2 separate regions of the Homo sapiens genome follow, and region 2 is linked to region 1. The links come from fine-mapping of genetic effects on gene expression. A gene starts in region 1. The other region holds a variant in brackets. All regions are shown on one strand. Distances are from middle to middle.

Evidence for each region. PIP is the estimated chance that this variant, and not a neighbour inherited with it, causes the effect.
Region 2: its variant is fine-mapped to the expression of FAM111A-DT in fibroblasts (GTEx, PIP 0.91).

Annotation. Positions count from the first base shown.
Region 1 is chr11:59,137,825-59,147,393 of GRCh38, forward strand. FAM111A-DT (FAM111A divergent transcript) reads right to left here and starts at 4,984. Exons shown (of 4, transcript NR_110184.1): 1 at 4,791-4,984; 2 at 2,133-2,343. It overlaps FAM111A (FAM111 trypsin like peptidase A), which reads left to right and starts at 5,032. Exons shown (of 6, transcript NM_001312909.2): 1 at 5,032-5,122; 2 at 5,259-5,480; 3 at 5,673-5,871; 4 at 8,003-8,032. It also overlaps the pseudogene LOC100422399. RefSeq lists enhancers at 4,800-5,249, 6,618-6,727.
Region 2 is chr11:59,082,270-59,091,838 of GRCh38, forward strand. It overlaps GLYATL1B (glycine-N-acyltransferase like 1B), which reads left to right and starts at 4,038. Exons shown (of 5, transcript NM_001355566.1): 1 at 4,038-4,115; 2 at 4,795-4,902. The coding sequence starts at 4,038. The variant C/CT (reference allele first, on the strand shown) is at 3,862.

The DNA.
Region 1 (9,569 bases):
GCGTTCGTGCCAGGTACATCTCCACGACCATCCCATAGGCTACCTCATTTAGGCTCATGCCCTCTATGAGACAGTATTAGCGGGGGCATGTTCTTTACATGCAACGACAGAACCAGGACAGAGGCAAACATAAAGACGCAGTGGCTTTCAGGGTCGAGCTCAGCACAGTGTTAATTCTGTCTATATTCTACTGCCCAAAGCCCAACATTGATGGGGTGGAGAGCAACTGCAAAGGCACCTGGCAACCAGTGTGTGTACAGGGAAGGGGGAAGATCTGAGAACAATTTTCCACACTCGGCCACTGGTTCTTCCAATTCTCCAAGTACTTCAAACTAGATTAAACAGCAAACGTGTATTTAATATAGAATGTGTGTGCATTTTAATATATTGGATAGGCTATGAGACGTGACCTGGAAAAGCACTAGGCTTAGATACAATATTGCATTAAACTGCTCTGGGTCCATGAATGTGAGAATCATATTCATTCACCTCTGTTCCCCAATGTCCAGTACAATACCTGGCACAAAGTAGGAATTAACACATCTCTTAAATGAATGAAACCATGTGGAAATGATATTATTTGTGTACCTCTTCTGTCTTCCCTATTTGAGGGCAGGGGTCAACATTTTACCCTTCATAGAATGTGGCACCGGATCTTGTAAATTGCCACCCGAAATTTATACCTTGAATAGATTATTGGATTAATGAAAAAGCATTATACTAGGAAGAAGTAAGCCACTGTGCCTTTTTGCAGTTAGATCTGAGAGGCAGCCATCATTCAATAGAATAAGTTTGGCTTCTAGTTTCAGATGGGAATACAAATCCTCATAAGGATGTTTCTGCACAATTATTTGCTAAAGCTTTTTGTGAAATGGCGAAGATAATCTCACCTTCCCCACAGGGTTATTGAGAGTATTAAATGAAACAGACACATGTAAATGCCAAGCTCAGAGAGGAACTCAAAGCAGTACAGCAGCAGAGGTCATTTCCCTCTACACACTCCCTGCTGCTTCCGTGGGCAGACATAAGTGTTAGCCAGGCCAATGAAAGCAGTTAAGCAGCCAAGTTGGACTTTGCCAAGGGATCCCACACCACCACCACCCCTTTTAAAGGTTACTACAAAAGTAATCTTAAGAAAGTTTTATATATAATAACTGTGATATTTTTAACTTGATTGCACATCTTATCAAACAGGTATTGATTTTCAGTGCTTTCAATGATTAAGAATAAGGGCAACAAAAAAGAAAATCTGTGTATAATATGATGAACCTGGAATTTTTGGTTTCATACGTGTGTGTATATATATGTATATTTATGTATATATATATATATACACACACAGAGCAGTAATGGCCTTTAAAATAAATTCAAATAATGATAGAAAACAAAACATCTTCATGCATGGTGTAATCTTTTTCCTACAAGAAGGCCTTGTTTTAAAAATGTGCATAAGGTTATGCTTTTGCATATTTTATATAATTTCTTAAAGGTATGTTATCAAATTAATGTTTTCCAGCCAGGGTATCATATTTAAGGGTGATAGTAAATACTCCAAACACACCAGCTGTCACAAAATAATTATGCCTATGTCTATTATTGTTATCTGTTTCTCATAAAATTAATCATAAATGATATGAATTATTGATTAAAATTAGTGTTTATAGACTATAAACCTATGAAAAGCCACAAGAGCAGTATTTTTACATATTTTTCAAGAATTCAGATAACAGTGTAACCTTTGATTATAATAACAGAATTCATTTCTGTAGCAGAATTACAAATACAGCAATTATAAATATAAATGATACTCCGTTAAGTCCATCCTGCTTTTAACTGTGCAACTATTTACAGCCAGAGGCAGGAATAAAAAAGGGTGTATACGTGTGGAAGAAAATTCACTCCATGCTGTTTTTGACCTTGCGTGTAAAAAATAATTCATTACTATCAAAAGAGGCATTTTCCCAAATAAAAACAAACAAGGAAACAAAAACACAGGAAAAAAAAAAAAACTACTTACTGACCGTGACTTAAGTGTGGAGGAAAAAACCCTTTGCAGCTAATGTTGGCAAAAGTGTGTCCCCCGTAGATTTAGTCTAAGAATTAAGAAACTGGCCGGGCGCGGTGGTTCATACCTGTAATCCTAGCACTTTGGGAGGCCAAGGTAGGCGGGCTGCCTGAGTTCAGGAGTTTGAGACCAGCCTGGGGAACATGGCGAAATCCTGTAGTCCCAGCTACTCAAGTGGCTGAGGCATGAGAATCGCTTGAACCTGGGAGATGGAGGTTTCAGTAAGCCAAGATCATGCCACTTCACTCCAGCCTGGGTGACACAGTGAGACTCTGTCTCTAAAAAAAAAGAAAAAAGAAAAAAGAAAAAAATAGCCTGTTTAATGAAGCATTGACAAGGAACCCAGGCTATGATTATAGAATAGGAGCTTCATAGTAATTGTAAGAACTCTGGTTCTTAGAAGACAAAAGTTAAATTTAATAAATAAGTTTAATGGCCAAAATATCTTTTTAAAACTTGTTTGTAGTCTTTAGAATGTGAATTTTATTTGGTTTAGATCTTACTAAGCTATATTTTGTAACTGAAATTAATACTTCATTTTTGCCTGAAATTAGTAGAAAAAACAATAGCTAAAGTTTGCTACAGATAAATAAATGTCAATATTAGACTTTTTTTCTTTTGAAAAGGTAGGGAACTTTAATTAGTAATATAAGTTAAGAAAATGACAAAGATGTCAGATAATGAAGAAAAAATGTGACAGTAATCTTTCATCCAAAAAAAGGTTATGTTCCTATTGTCTAAAGCCAAAATATATTTCATTGCAAATATATATAAAGTTTAAGAATTGTTATTTTAGGCCCTTTCCGCAATAAGCCAACACATAACTTATCATGCCATAAATGTTTTTAAAAGAAATATGATTAAAATTATACAAAACGACATAAAAATTTCAGAAAGAATATTGATAAATATCTTGGTACATAGTAGATTTAGTTGCACAGATATTAGGTGGTACAAGTTTTATATCTTCTATAATAATAACTTTTTATTATCTCCTTGTGCACTAATATTTCAATATGTCAAAGTCATTTGAATAACCTTTCTAGTAAATCTCAACTTCGTAGATTGAAAACTTTTTTAAAAGCTTTATTTAAGTTTAGTGGTACATGTGCAGGTCTGCTATATAGATAAACTCATGTCATGGGGGTTTGATGTACAGATTATTTCACCACCAAGGTATTAAGCCTAGTACCCATTAGTTGTTTTTCCCGATCCTCTCCCTTCTTCCATCCACCACCCTCCGATAGGCCCCAGCGTCTGTTGTTCCCCTCTGCGTGTCCATGTGTTCTCATCATTTAGCTCCCACGTATAAGTGATAATATGCAGTATTTGATTTCTGTTCCTGCATTAGTTTGCCAAGAATAATGGCCTCTAGCTCCATCCATGTCCCTGTACAGGACATGATCTCATTATTTTTTATGGCTGTGTAGTATTCAATGGTATACTGAGTTTTCTTTATCCAGCCTACCACTGATAGGCATTTAGGTTGATTCTTTGCTATTGTGAACAGCGCTGCAAGGAACATACGTGTTCGTGTGTCTTTATGAAAGAATGATTTATATTCCTTTGGGTACATACCCAGTCATGGGATTGCTGGGTTGAATGGTAGTTCTGTTTTTAAGTCTTTGAGGAATTGCCACACTGTTTTCCACAATGGTTGAACTAATTTACACTCCCACCTAGTATATAATCCTTCCTTTTGGAAACAAATTTTATCAGTATATTCAATTCTGAACACCCATGTTTTAGAAAATGTTAAGCCTATTGTCCTTTAATCACTATTTGCTTACACATTAAAATGTAAAACAGGCAAAAGAGAAAGAAGGAAGAAAGGAGGGAGGGAGGGAAGGAGAAAAGTGAGAAAGAAAGAAAGATAAAAGAAAAAAGAAAGAAGAAAGAAAGAAAGAGAAGAAATAAAGAGAAAAAAGAAAGGAAGAAAGGAAGGAAGGAATGAAGAAGAAAAGAAAAAAGAGAAAGAAAGAAGGAAAGAAAAAGAAAAAAAGAAAGAGAAAGAAAGAAAGAAAGAGAAAGAAAGAAAGAGAGAGAGAGAGAGAAAGAGAGAGAAAAGAAAATTTTCTCCAGATTAGAATTATTGGCTGCTATTGTTTGGATGCTGGGTACTAGCTGTGATTACCCTTTGTGAATGTAGGAATGCACAGATTCCAAAAGTGAGTCTCATAGAAAAAGTCAGCATTCAAATATGTTTTAAGGTTACTCTATCCAAACCCCAAAGAACCCACAGAAGATGAAGCAGTAATTTTAGCTTCTCTTGGTGTATTGTACATGCATTTAAGGCCAGTTCCTTCCTTCAAATTCCCATGTGTTTTGTAGTTACCAACACACCTTTCAACCCTATCTGTTTATATACATCATATAGTCCTCTGTCAATTGCATAAAAGTTGTCCCCTTTGTGACTGTAATCGCCTTTTCCAATACACATCTACTCAGAATGCAGGTCCTTAAACAGCAGGCTGCCTTGAAAACCCTCTCCAATCTTCTTCGATCATCAGCTTTGAGATGCATATTCCTAGAGCCCATATCATCTTCTTCATCACTATCATAAACGTCTCCACATATTGATGAACGTTTGGAGAATCGATTTATGACAAGGGAGTTTACTCTTCCTGCATCCGCGGCTTCTTCGTGATTTTGTCCTAGTCACCGGGCCTATCCCACCTGCTGGGGATGCCGCCCCCTCGGAAGTGCCTGAAATCTCCCCACTTACCCAACTAGCCTCAGCGCCTCCTGTGTGCTGCAGCAGATGGCGCGCTGCAGACCCCAGCCTGGTGCCTCCGCGACTCCTCCCCAACCATGATTTACAGGCGGGGACAGCCACATTCCTGCGCCCCAACTTCCACCTCCGCTTCCTGCGCGCGCGAGACTCAAGCTGCCACAGTGGCTCTGCCGCCAGCGTCCCAGCTCCTCCCACACCCGAGTTTTTATTTCCTGCTCCCTCTCCAGCCCGGCCCAGGCCAGCCTACCGGCGACTAGGATGCTTTCGCTTTCGCTCTCGCTTTCCAATACTCGGGACTGGGGAAACCGGGAGAATAGAAGCAGGCAAGGACCGCCGTGGGCACGGGGTCAGTGAGACAGGGTCCTGCTCGCGGCGTCAAGGAGGAGCGCTGTGGGTGGGTAGGGTAGGCGCGCCCCCTCGGCCTTGCCTTTCCAACCACTCTTTTTTGCACGCCAACAGGTGTCCCCAGCGCAGCCAATCGGCTTCCGAAGTAGGTGAGTTGCTGCCTGAAGAGAAAAGACAAACTCCAGTATCTTTCATTCCATTGGCCAGACGCGCCATTCCCCAAGTGAGTTCTGTTCTCCAACCAAAGTGCTGGATTCCAAGGGACTGGAAGGGAAAGTCCCTAAAAATCACGAGTTCAGGCGTCTGAGACTTGGTGGGAACGGACCTTCCTCTTAGGTGAGTTACTCTTTGGTTCTGGGGCTGACCTGGAGTTTTGCCAGGATTCATTGGCCGCAGCAGGATGCTGGTGGGGACAGGGTAAATAAAATCTGCACTCCTGCGGGCTTTTATTGTTGAAAGGGGCACTGACGCTCTCCCTGGAAACTTAAAAAGAACAGCCAAGTGAACGGATGTGTCTTTCTTTTGCAGTGCCCAAGCCTGTTCTAATTTTTAAAAACTGATGTCTATTAAGACCCAATGTTAACTTTATGAAAATGGTTCCTAAGGAGATTCACATCTCTGTGTCCGAATTCTGTGTGCAGCAAACATCATCTCAAGTGCGTTTTCCCAACTACGCTTCTTTCCAGGATAAAATACTCTAAGTGACAAATGTTGAGTACATTATCAGGTATGTTCACTATTGTGAGAACTGAAGCCATCTACACTCACATAGCTTGCCAACTACATTAACCTGACTTCTTATTCCATTATTTTCATCAACATACATTTACTATTTCAAGAAACTTTTGCCAGGGACCGGAAAGTTGCAAATATCTTTATTGCTTAATCCAGTATCTTCTTCAAAGATCCAACCACTCTTCAATGGAAAACATCAAAGAACAGTTTACATTCTAAGACTTTGAACCTTTACCTCAAAATCCTAGCCTTGTTTTATCTACCAATCCTAAACTTTTACCCGTAGCTGACTCAATTCTAACCAATTCCCCTCATTAAATATTAGACTTACAATGGGACTTCAAAATCTCAATACATATAGCCCAAACTTGCTCTTCCCTCTCTGAGACACCACTTAAATTCTGTCAAGTTATTGTTCTCCATTACCTAAGTGAGCAAGAAACTTAGCTTTGTCTTATCAACAGGTTGCTTTGATATTACTGGGAGCCAACATTTGACATTCTTGGAGGCTCCAGCAAGACCTAATCAACCTCCCAACCCTCAACTCAGAATCAGTGTGTGCCCTGAAGTCCCTTCAACCTTCTTGAGGCTCTCCCTGATCTCAAAGGTGGAGAAAGTAGATCTTGCATCAGGTTGAACTCCAGTTTCTTTTTGCTCAGTTTTTCAAGCGCTGAGTTTATTTTGTCCCTAGGCATAAAGAAATCTTTCTAGGAACCCCTTTGGTTATGGGACCAGATTTTTAAAAGCTTTTTAGGCTTGGTGAAAAATCTGCCTTATCACTAGCAACACTACGACTTGTCTCTGTTCTTGTTTTTTGTTGTACTCGTGTAAAAGAAAAGTTCAAGGGAAGAGAACAGGCTCAAGTCTACTTCTCACGCTGGCTCTGGGGATTAGGAAATTCAGAAAGTTTTGTTTCAGACTGGCAGTGCTGTCTGATATAAACACAGCGTCAAGTACTGCACGCTGTAGCTACCTGAGGTTTAGGCCGGAAGAGGCACGGCTGATTTAAAAGTGAAAGAAAGTAACCAATTGGTTCGCAGACAACCTTTTCCCAAAAGGCGGGCGATTCAAACCCCTAGCCCCACCTGCTCCGTTTCCCGCCCAGCTGGAGCTCTGGAGCCTTTGCTTCCTCAAATACGAGCGGGAACTGCGTTGAGCGCTGGATTCCAGGCCGAGTGCTGGCGAGGCGCGCAGTGAGTGAGCACACAGGGCGCTGGGGTGCTCCGCGGGGCGCGGTCACGGGCGCGGCCGCGGCGGGCTCGAGTCCCGGCTGGGAGGAGAAGGAGCTGGGTGTCAGGAAGCCGGGGACTGACAGCGCCACCCATCTGGGGAGCCGGGAGGACACAGGTTTTATTTTGGTAGTGCTGCAAGTCCCCTTGTGTGCTGGGGGGAGCGGGGCGGCGTGGTAGGATTGGAAGAGGCTTAGAGTTGGCCTCGACCCCTGCCCTTGCCCCTGGAAAGGCAGAAAGTGGGGGTTGGGGTGCGGAGAAGCAGGAAGAGAGGGAGAGTGAAGGAGGGGAGGAAAGGGAGAGAGGAAGAGGGAGAGTGAAGGAGGGGAGGAAAGGGAGAGAGGCAGAGAGGGGGAAGGAGAGAGGGAAGGAAGGAGAGATTGAGAGACAGAGAAATTCCTAAGGGGAGCTGTCAGGTGGGCTGGACATGGGCCCCAGGCTGCACTGCTTTATCCCTTTGCTGTAGGAAGTCAAGCAAGTTCTTTAGGTAAGTAGAACCTTGATGTCAAGTATAAAACAGGGGTTGGTATAGGATAGCTAAGAGCACTTTATATTTTGATATAATCTGATTTATCCTGGATACTGAAAACAATGTAGGGAGACGGAGGATATTGGAGTGTTTTCTTAACCTCTTGCCCCTTTCCACTGTGATTGCTCAAGTACATGCAAAATTAATGTTTCTTTCTGCCCATTTTATTTTCCTTTTTTTGTCTGTGTCTATTAATCATTCCTAAAGCACCCGGATCCTCTCTCAAACTTCGTAAGATGAGACATCATGAACAGACACAGTGAATCCCTAGATTTTCTTAATAGTTGGGCAACAAGTTCTTGCATTTAGGGATGTTGCAACATAGCCCAGTTCCGCAATTGTACATTTTCTATTTTTTTTCCTAGGTTCTCTGCTGTTTAAAAAGTATCCCTGTGGTGAGTGTATTGATATTGATAACATTTACATGACCTTTTTATTGATTATTTACTGGGGGACCTATTACATACAGGCAGTGTTTTAAAGGCTTTGCATATGCTCTCTCTCTCTCTCTATATATATATATATTTACACACACTGTATATATAGATAGATTGCATATATAATATATATAATATGTGTGTGTATGTGTGTATATATATATTGTGTGTGTGTGTGTGACAGAGAGAGAGAGAGAGAGATGAAGTCTCGCTCTGTTGCTCAGGCCTCAGGCTGGAGGGCAGTGGTGTGATCTCGGATCACTGCAACCTCTGCCTCCCAGGTACAAGCCACTCTCCTGCCTCAGTCTCCCAAGTAGCTGGGATTACAGGCACCCACCACCATGCCCAGCTAATTTTTAATTCTTAGTAGAGACAGGTTTTCACCAGGTTGGCCAAGCTGGCCTCGAACTCCTGACTTCAAGTGATCCATCAGCGTTGGCCTCCCAAAGTGCTGAGATTACAGGCATGAGCTACCGCACCCAGACCACAATATATTTCTTAATCTTTATAACAAGGTTGATTCCCACCTTAAGGTGAGGAAAATGAAGGAAGAATAGTTAATTAATATGCCCAAGGTCATGCAGCTAGTAAGTGGCTACCTGATATTTGAACTCAGACAGTTTTATAAGTTCTAACATTATTTTAGCACTTCCATATTCATTATCTCATTTAGAATCATTGCTTCTTTTTACAAACAAGAAATTGAGGCTCAGAAAGGCTAAATGAATTTCCCTAGTCAATGACTGACAGTAAACTAGAAAGCCAGGACTCTTGTTCCATAGTGGAATGGTTACGAGAGTAAACATAGCCTTTAGATAACTTCCATTTGACAAGAAATACAGGGGCTAGAACATAAGTTAAACAATGACATGAGGAAACAACCCAGGAGGTGAACATTCTATAGAGACAATTTCTCTGTTCTCTTCAACAAATCAGTGCTTTTTCTAGAATAAAAGAGCCTTATAAGACATATAAAGGAAACTGTGTACCTCAGTTGGATCTTGGTATGAATAAATCAGTATTGTGATTATAAAAGAAAAATTATGTAATTTTTAGAGATGGGAAGTGACCATTAGCGTTTAAATGTCATGATGTTTCTAGCTGTAACATAAATCATCTAGTAAAATAAAAGGATGGTGTAAGGGTAGCCAAACCCGGGTTTGGCAACTCACACCTCAAAGCCAAACATGAGAGATGAGAGTTGGTGGGAGGAAAAGCAGGTTCATTCAGAGAGCCAGCAAACTGAGAAGATGGCAGACTAGCAACCCAAAGTAGCCTCTTAAGTGAGTACAAGTTTCAGGCTCTTTATGTTAAGGGCATGGGGAAGAGAAGGGATTTACGATCAAGAGGTGACCATTGACTGGAGACATCTGAGCACCATCAAGGATCCAAGAAGGTTGGGAATGTCTTTGTCCTGATGTTCCAGTGAGCCCAAGCATTGATTTGCTGAAGAGAACAGATAAGTTGTCTCTATAGAATGTTAATTTCCTGGGCT
Region 2 (9,569 bases), 56 kb before region 1:
TGTGGTGCCATTTTTGACCCCAGTGTTCTGGCAGTATAGGGAGTTTTGGCCTTTAAAAATCAAACTGCCACAGTAACTCCTTTTATTTAAAATTTGGTTCACAGCCTTCCCTGGATTACTTATCAAGGCTAACAAAGTTCAGCCATGTGGACATGTTTGCAGACAGTTGAGACTATATTACTATCTCATGGCTAGAGTTCCAAGGTAAAAGCTTTTGGATCTTCGTGTGTATATACATATAGATGTGTTTATGTGCATGCACACGTATTACATTATATGTTGTGACTAGAAATTGGCTTCTACATAAAAGAACTCTCCTAGATTAAGTAAAAAAGTTTTTTTACATTCACGTTACTTAAGTAAATTTTTAAGAAGCTAGCATAAAAATTATTGTAATACAAAAATAGAAATGTCTTCAGAATTGTCAGCATACATTTTTTTCGGGGTTTTATGTTTGTCTCTGCTAGATATTTTGGGGTATCAGAGTGTGGCACAGAAAATTATAAAACTATAACCAGTAGTTTGAGACCAGCCTGCAAAACGAAGACCACCCCCCCACCATCTCTATAACATAAAAATAAGACAATTAGCCAGGCACATTGATTCATGCCTGTAGTCCCAGCTAATCAGGAGACTGAGGTGGGAGGATGCTTGAGCCTTAAAGCTCAAGGTTGCAGCGACTCATGATCCAGCCACTGCACTCCAGCCTAGGTGACAGACTGAGACCCTGTCAAAAAAAGAAAAAGATAAGAGGCAGAGAATGACCATGGGGAACAGGAGCATTGCAGAGAAACTAAGGGAACAGTTGTAATTGTTAATAGGATGGTCACAGGATGCCTCATCGAGCAAGTGGCTTTAAGGTGAAGACTTAAATAAGGTAATAAGGTTTTCTATAGGTATAATGAGAAAACAGAATGCAAGCAGAAGAAAAAGGACAGCAAAGTGCCTAAAGCAGAGAAGGCAAAGAGATTGAAGTCAGGGACATGACTGGAGGGATGTCAGAGAGGTGACTGGATTCTAAGTCATGGAAAACTTAGAGGGCTGTTATAAGGCTTTTATATATCTTTCTCTGAATGAGATTGGGAGTGACAGCAGGAGTTGCACAACAAATAACAAAATGTGGCTTTTGTTTTAAAAAGAGCATTCTGGTTTTACATAGAGAAAAGACTAAAGACATTCTCCATCCAGAAAAGACTGCCGAGAACTGTGAAGCATCTAAAAGTTTACAGGGGCACAGATGCAGAAATGCTGGCAGATGACACAAGCTTCCAGGTAAAGGCAGGATTTTATATGCCTTCACCAGGCAGAATGAGTTATGTGTTTGTGTCAGTCATCTTTGCTCCACAAGTCCTACAGAGGAAATACAGAAAGACAGATTAATGTCGCAAATGCAATAGATGTGTGTTGCAGCAAAACTGCCTTCTGCTTCAGAAGAAAGCAGTATCTCTAGCTTCCAAGCTGTACTCTTTACAAACATCCTTGAAAAGTTAGGAGCAAAGGCTGTCAATGTCTCTGCTCCTAAGACATGCAGAAATGTGAGAGGCATGAAGAATTTTCTCCCAACCAGAATGAGCAGAATGTCATAATGGATTGGATATAATGTGGGAGGGGAAAAGATACATAAGAGTAATTCCAAGAGTTTTTATTTGAATAGATGAAAAGGTAGAGTTGCCATCAACTTAATTGAGAAAGACTACAGGTGAAGTAGGCTGGGTGGAGAGGGTGGATAAGGAGTTTGATCTGAGACATAATGAGTTTGAGATGGCTATTGGGTGGAATCCAAGAGATATGAAACAGGCCATTAGATACATATGTCTTGAGTTTGGAAAAGAGTTTTAATACTAATATAAATGTATTAGTCATTGGCAAGCAGATTGATTTTAAAGCCATGGGACCAGATGTGATTACCAGGGAGTAAGTGTGGATACAAATGAAGGCCAATGATTGAACTCTAAAGTGATGCAAAATTAAGAAGTTGGGGAGAAAAGAAGGGTCCACAGAGGAGACTGAGAAATAACCAGTGAAGTTAAAGGAAAACGAAGAGAGTGTGTTTTCTTGGAAACCAAGTGAGGAAAGTCTTAAAGAATGATCTATTAAGAACAGAAGCAATAACTGATCACTGGATTTAATAACATAGAGATCACTGATGGCTTTAAAAAATGTTTCAGTAAAATGGTAGCAGCAAAAACCCAGTTAGAGAAGATTAGGAGGAGGATTGGAAATAGCATTTGTAGACAATCCTTTCAATGAATTTTGCTACAAAGTGTTAAAGCAAATTAAATATGGTCTGAGAAGGACTCTGTACTTCATTTGAGTCCTTGTGGGTGAAGAGTAACCTAGCTTAATAGTCAGACAAAATTGAAAACCTAATTTAGGAGTGTGCACCTGTAACAATACTTGAATGTTGGCCAGTCCCAGCAGCCTTACATCACCACTCATAGACTGCTGAATGCTCAAACTGTGTTTAAATAAGGCAAACGCCCAGCTGACAGCAATCTCACTGTTTCTGTAACTCATTTCTGGTTCCTGGATGTCACTTTAACTTTTTTTCCCTATAAATTTGTTTTGACCACAAGACACCCCTGGAGCCTCCATGAATCTGCTGTGATTCTGAAGGCTGCTGGATCGATGAATTGTTCATTGCTCAACTAAACTCCTTTAAATTTAAGTCAGCTGAAGTTTTTATTTTATCAGATTGTGTCAGAAGCAGAATCTGAAGTGGAGCTTCTAGTATCCCCAGGAGCACTGAGTAAACACAGAAGGTACCTGCAGGATCCACTTGTGTCCATTGATCTCTCAGAGCAGCTGAGGATCAAAGGTAAGCTCCCTCTTGCATTTTGGAGCTTCACACATTTGTGTTTTGAGCTCTCTGAGTTTCCTTGAGCAAATTTGTGATCCAAACTGGTTTTGGAGTTGCAACAGAAAATGGACTGGGTCTAGGAATGAATTTGATCTGGGAATTAACTGGCTTGGATCCACTTAGAGGCCACTAACAGTAGAGGCCACTAACAGCTGACTGGGTCATAAAGGAAGTGGTAGTAAGCAGTAATGTCGCAGCAGTCATAAAATTCGGCTTTGGGAAATTCACAGGGATTTTTGTGTTCTACCCATTTGTTTCATTTTTCTTCTCCACCTAGGTAGGGAAATTCATTGGCTAAGTTAATCAAAAGAACCTGAGAGTAAAGCCAGTAGTTTCGGTAAAAATGGAATCCTTAATTTCTGAAAAACTGAGTTCTTTCTGGCTTATACATTAGGACTGGGAGGCAGAGAAGTCTTACGCAAATGGCAAAATCTTACTAAAGATAACTTAGAGTGGAACATTCCAAATGAAAAACAATGCATTGAACTACATTTAAAAATGAGGGCTCTCAGTAAAGTCCCTTTTGGCTAAGAACCGGTTTGGCCCTATGGAATGTCAACTGTTATACTCTTTGTCACATTTGTAAGAATTCCAAGTGTTATATCGAACGAAATTTACAGATATGTTTCAAAATTTTCCATGTTTTTTTCTTATTTTTGTAATGAAACTGGGAAAAATTTCTAAATGGTTATAGATCTGAAATATTTAGCCCTAAGAAACTAAATAAAATCTTTGCCAACTCCTGCTCTGAGGTTTCCAGTCACAACTGTTCTTAGATATTTTCTATTCCAGAAGAAAGAAGACTCCTCAGGCATCTGATGTGCAAAATACAAGGAAAAGTTATGGTGATGGTGGTGGAGTGTTCTGCTACAGGCATGTGGGAAGCTCACAGAACTCTTAATATTCACTTTTATTCATTCCACCAGAGAGGAAATGCATGGGTTTTGGATATGACTCTGTCGTTTATCCCTGTAAGAACTTGAGAAATTTATTTAGTCTCT[C/CT]TAAGCTTTGGCGTATTCAAAATGAAGACGATACTAACAGTACCTACATCATGAGTGTTACTTGAATGGAGATGTGTAAAGTGCATTTTAATTTCATCTGGTCCTTTAACATTTTCCCTCCACTTCTCTTCAGAGTTTTTTTCTTGAAGGGCTTGAGGACTGAAGCATCCCACAAAATGATTCTATTGAATAATTCCGAGCGGCTGCTGGCCCTATTCAAATCTTTAGCAAGGAGCATTCCTGAGTCCCTGAAGGTGAAGGAACAGTGGGAGGTTGGGGTATGGGAGTAGGGGTGTTGAGGATGAGAAACTAACAGGCTCATGAATCTCGTCCTTCCTGACTTTGTGCAGAGGGTTGGAGCTGGGAAACAGGATGGGGTTGGGGACAAAGGAGGCATGTTAAGAGCTGCTGCTTCTCCTCGGCAACAGGCAACTAGGCCGACTCTGCAGATTTTATCACTCATTTGGAGAGGTGGTGAAGAATGGTGGCTACGAACATCGGTTTGGGGCCAGATTCAATAAATATGCATTGCAAGGCTGCCATTTTTTAGTCAGATATCATTGTGCCTGTGCCTTTAGCTTTCTTTACGTTTGGTCTTTTCATTAATAAAATGGGAATAATATTAGTACCTACCTCTTAAAGTTGTTGTGGACACTGAATGAATCCATACAATATAAGTGCTAAGTGCATTAACAAGTGCCCAGCTACTGCACAGTAGCTCTGTGGTATCACAAGAACACCTCCCTGTGAGTTCTGCCTGTTTGCTGGTGACTTCATGTCCATCAGTATGGTCCTGGAGATGCTGTTCATCTCATCATCACTGACTTGGTCCCAGTACTGTCTCTTGATCTCCATTTTTCTCTTCCTCTTCACATACAGACCCCCATCTCTGGGGATCTCAGCCTCTCCTATTCCCTTTCATCCCTCCTTCAGGTGTATGGCTCTCTGTTTCACATCAATCACGGGAACCCCTTCAACATGGAAGTGTTGGTGGACTCCTGGCCCGAGTATCAGATGGTTATTATCCGACCTCAAAAACAGGTAGGCACACAGACAGGGACTGGTGGAGCCAGGCAGGTCCAAAGGGCCTGAGGAACTGTCCAATTCAGACACCATGGCTGCTTTTATAGGGTGAAAGGAAATGTGAGTATTTTAAAACACTCCTTCAGTACTGGGCAGCTTGCGTGAGTGCCACATGTTAACACTCTTCCTGTAAAGCATAAGACTCATTAGGGAAAGGGGGTCAAGGGGGAAGGGGAGGAAAAGGACAAAGCTGACACTCACAGATTAAGGGCCCTTTGAGGTGGCAGGGGTCACCTGCAGGGGCTGAATGGAGGCCAATTTACAGGGAAAGTTGGCTGTCTGAGATATTGGAACAGTGACTTAGAACCAAAAACCAAGGCAGTAGTCTACCAGTAAAATTACATCTCATGGCCAGGCATGATGTCTTTTATCTGTAATCCCAGCACTTTGGGAGGCCAAGGCAGGAGGATCGCTTGAGGCCAGGAGTTTGGGACCTGCCTGTGCAACATAATGAGACCTCATCTCTACAAAAAAATAAACAAAATTAGCAGGGCATGGTGATGCGTGCCTATACTCCTAGATACTCAGGAGATGGAGGTGGGAGGATGGCTTGAGCCCCAGAAGGTTGAGGCTGCAGTGAGCCAAGATCACACCACTCTACTCTAGCCTGGCCAACAGAGTGAGACCCTGTCATGAAAACAATAAAAGTTGCTTCTCAGGAACCAGGGAAGGGACACACAATTACTTTGTGTCAACTGTGTGGAAGCACCTCACTCGTTAGTGACTGTCATCATCAGAACAATTTTACAAAGTGAGCTTTAATATCTTTAATTTAGAGATGAGGAAACAACACTGAGAAATATTCAGTCAGGTAGCTGCTGGATACCATCTGTTAAAGCATTCCCCAATCTGAATTCAAGTTCAACGGACTCTGCCACTTTTACTAGCTATATAACCATAGGCCCTTCTGTGAGTTTTATCATCTGTTAAAATGGGAAAAATAGGAGGACATTCTTCAGAGGATTACACAAGGTTTAAATGAGATACCACATGTCAAACACTTAGTATATAGCACATAATTCTAAATAGTATTTACCATAATTAGCCATTATTGGCCGAGGACACACAAGGAATACACGATTAAGCTGAAATAGTAATACAAACCTAGGTCTATTTTTTGGCCCTAAAGACTTCCCCTTTTTGTGTCTGTTTCATGCACATCTGATTAGTGAACTGAAGCCTCATGGCCAGCCCAGCTTCAGGTGGGTATAGACACTGAGCCCCCACATAATAATAAGCTGAGCCTAATACCTTCCCCAGGGATGTTCTTTTGATCTCCTGGTTTCCTGACAATTTCGGATCGATGATTAATGGTTAGTTTACTTGATCCATGGTCCAATTTCTTCAAAGTGTCATACGCTAAATAACTGTATGAACCAAATAGTTCTTTTTACTTCAGTAACTTTGTAGTCACTATGTGTATTTTAACAATGTAACTGTACCATCAAGCTGTAACTTCATATATGCATTGCTTTGAACAAGGCTAGTTTTTATATAGTGAGTCAGCAAACAAAAATATTAAAATATAAAAGTTCCATGCCACACATATATGACCAAAAAAATGGAAAGAATGAAATATGCTGCAATTTACTTGGAAATACATTCACTTAGTCTGATTCCATAGTATACCATGTTTCTTTCAGTATTGAAAATCAATGCAATTTTGAAGAAGACCTTTTTAAGGTGAGATGCAGGAGAATTTCTCTAGAAAAATATTAATTTTTCTTTGTTGGTTCCTAATCAGAAAGATAATATATGCTGATTATAGAAGTGGAAAAATTCAACATGATTTTAAGAAGTTAATAACCTCTCACCTCTTTGCCCTCCTCTCCTCCATTCCTACCCTTTGGGGTAATCGGTGTCCTTGGCCATATTAACACACAAACGGATATTCAGTTATGATCTCTTCTGTAATCGCTTTTTAATTTGCCTTTGACATATGGACATTGCTTTGAGTGAATCAATACAGCACTAACATATTTGTTTTAATAACTGTGGCGTTCCATAGAGTCAATGCAATGCTATTTAGTCAGTCATTCTCCTCCTGTTGGGTTCAAATTGTTCATACTTCTTTGCCATTACAAACAATGCTTCAATAAACATCCTTGTATACATGTCTTTACATCCTGGAAACTTTTCTCAATGCAATTGGTTTCCAAAAGGGATAAGTCCAAGTCAGAGCTTATCTTATCCTAAGTAGGCACTGCCAGACTACCCTCCCAAAGGATTCCACAGTATTATTTCCATTAGCAATCTGTGGAAGAATTGTTTCCCACATTCTCATCAGCAGTGAATGTTATCCTTCTTCTACTTTATGCCAAACTGGTGGGTGAAAAGTGGCATCTTATTGTAGATTTAATTTGCATTTCCCTGACTAGTGATATTCAACATATATTTTCATATGATTATCAGTCATTTTGGGTTTACTTCTGAACTGTTTATATTGTTTGACCATTTTTACACTGGGATTTTGTGTCATTCTTAAAATTCTCTATGTGTTTTGGATATGAGGGATACTAACACAAGGTGTATGCTACAAATTTGTTGCCCAATTTAGAATTATTTTCTAATTTGATAGATTTTCACATGAAGCAATTTTTAATTTTCATGTAATCAAATATATTATCTTTTTCACTATGATTCCTGAGGCTTTGGGAGTTTTTTTGTTAATAATTAGGAAGATTTTTCCTAAACCAAGATCGTACAAGTTGTTTTTTTCATTTTGTCTTACAGTGAGTTAATTTTTACTTTTGACATTTCAAACTTCATTCTATTTGGAATATATTTTTGAATAGCATGAATTAACATTCTTTTATATTTATCCCCCGAATGGCTGGCTAATTACGTTAGTGCTATTTATTAAGTAAGTCATTCTGCTACTGAAACATAAATGTCTATTTTGTCATATAACTTTTATATATTTTTGTAGCTATTTCTGTATTTGTTTCTAATCTTTTCTCATGCTATTTCATTGTTTTGTGGCAAATTTTAATATCTAATAAAGCAAATCACCCTTCACTAATCTTTTTCTTGCTTTCCTATTTCTTATAAACTTCAGAGCTATATGAACAAAAACTAATTTTTCAGTTCCCCAATTTCCCCAACTAAGTATTGCAATTGTGATTTGTATTGGAGGAGCTTTTTTAGACAATTGTGGAAGCATTAATATTTTTGTGATACTAAATATTTTTATCAAGAAATATGGTCTTTCTCTCACTTTTTTCAGTTTCTGTTCTATGCCATCTGGTAAAATATTAGTGTTTTCCTGAGGTAAACTACGTGATTTTTCCATTAAGTTTACCCTTAGGTATTTTATATTATTTTTTAAGATTATTAAATTATTTTTCCTTTTCTATTTCTGAGCATTATTATTTTGTTATTGCTTTCTATTTATATTCTTCATTTCCAAATATGTCACACTATGCTTTAAAATCTTCTTTGTTTGCCTGGGGTGTTATTTGTTTTTGTTTTCTGTCGAAGTCTCTTATATTTTCTAAATGTGTAATACTGTAATCTATAAACAAAGTAATTTGCTGCTTCTTTGCCAATATTTGTATGGGTTTTTACTTTCTTGCCTTATTGTATAATGTACAACCTAAGAAAACAATACCAAGTAGCCATAATAAAAGTTCTATCCTTGTCTCATTCCTGATTTTAATGAAATAGCTATAAAAACTTACCTTTGGAATTACATTTAATTCTGTCTTTACAGGCTTAGAGCACTTTCCTGTTTTCCCATTTTCATAGAAATTATATTTAGAATGAACGGTAGATTTTATGTTATTTCATTTTTGTCTTTTTATGGCAATTTATATACTCATGTAATTTTTTCCTCCTTTAATTTATTACCCTAAAAGATCTTCTGATCAAACTCATTCTGGCCTTTCTAAAACAAACTGTTCATGTTCACATTCTTTTCATATGCTACTGAATATTTTATTCAGAATTTTTGCATCTGTATTCATAAGCCAATATGGTCAGTAACTCTCTTTTTGTTATTTCTTTACCAGATTTGGCATTAGGATATTTTCATCTGTTACCAAAGTCTACTATTAAAATTATGTGTTTGGTTTTGCCTTATGTAGAATTGAAATGTAAAATAATCTAATTTTGGCTACTTTTTAGTTTGTAATTTCAACTTTCCTTTTAGATAAAGGGGGTACATGTGCATATTTGTTACACGCAAATATTGCATGATGCTGAGTCTTGGAGTATGGACAGATCCCATCACCCTGGTAGTGAGCATAGTACCCGATAGGTAGTTTTCTAACCCAGCCCCTTTCCCTCCACCCTCTAGAGTCCATAGTGTCTATTGTTCTCACATTTATGTCCATGTATGTTCAATGCTTAGCTCCCAGTTATGAGTGAAAACGTGATATTTGATTTTCTGTTACAGCATTAATTTGCTTAGGATTATTACACTGTGGAAAGTAGTCTGGAAATTTCTTAGAGAACTTAAAAGAGAGTTGCCATTCGACCCAGCAATGCCATTACTAGGTAAATACCCAAAAGAAAATGAATCGTTCTACCAAAATGACACATGCACTAGGATGTTCATTGCTGCACTGTTCACAATAGCAAAGACATGGAATCATCACAGATCCCCATCAAAGGTGCATTGGATA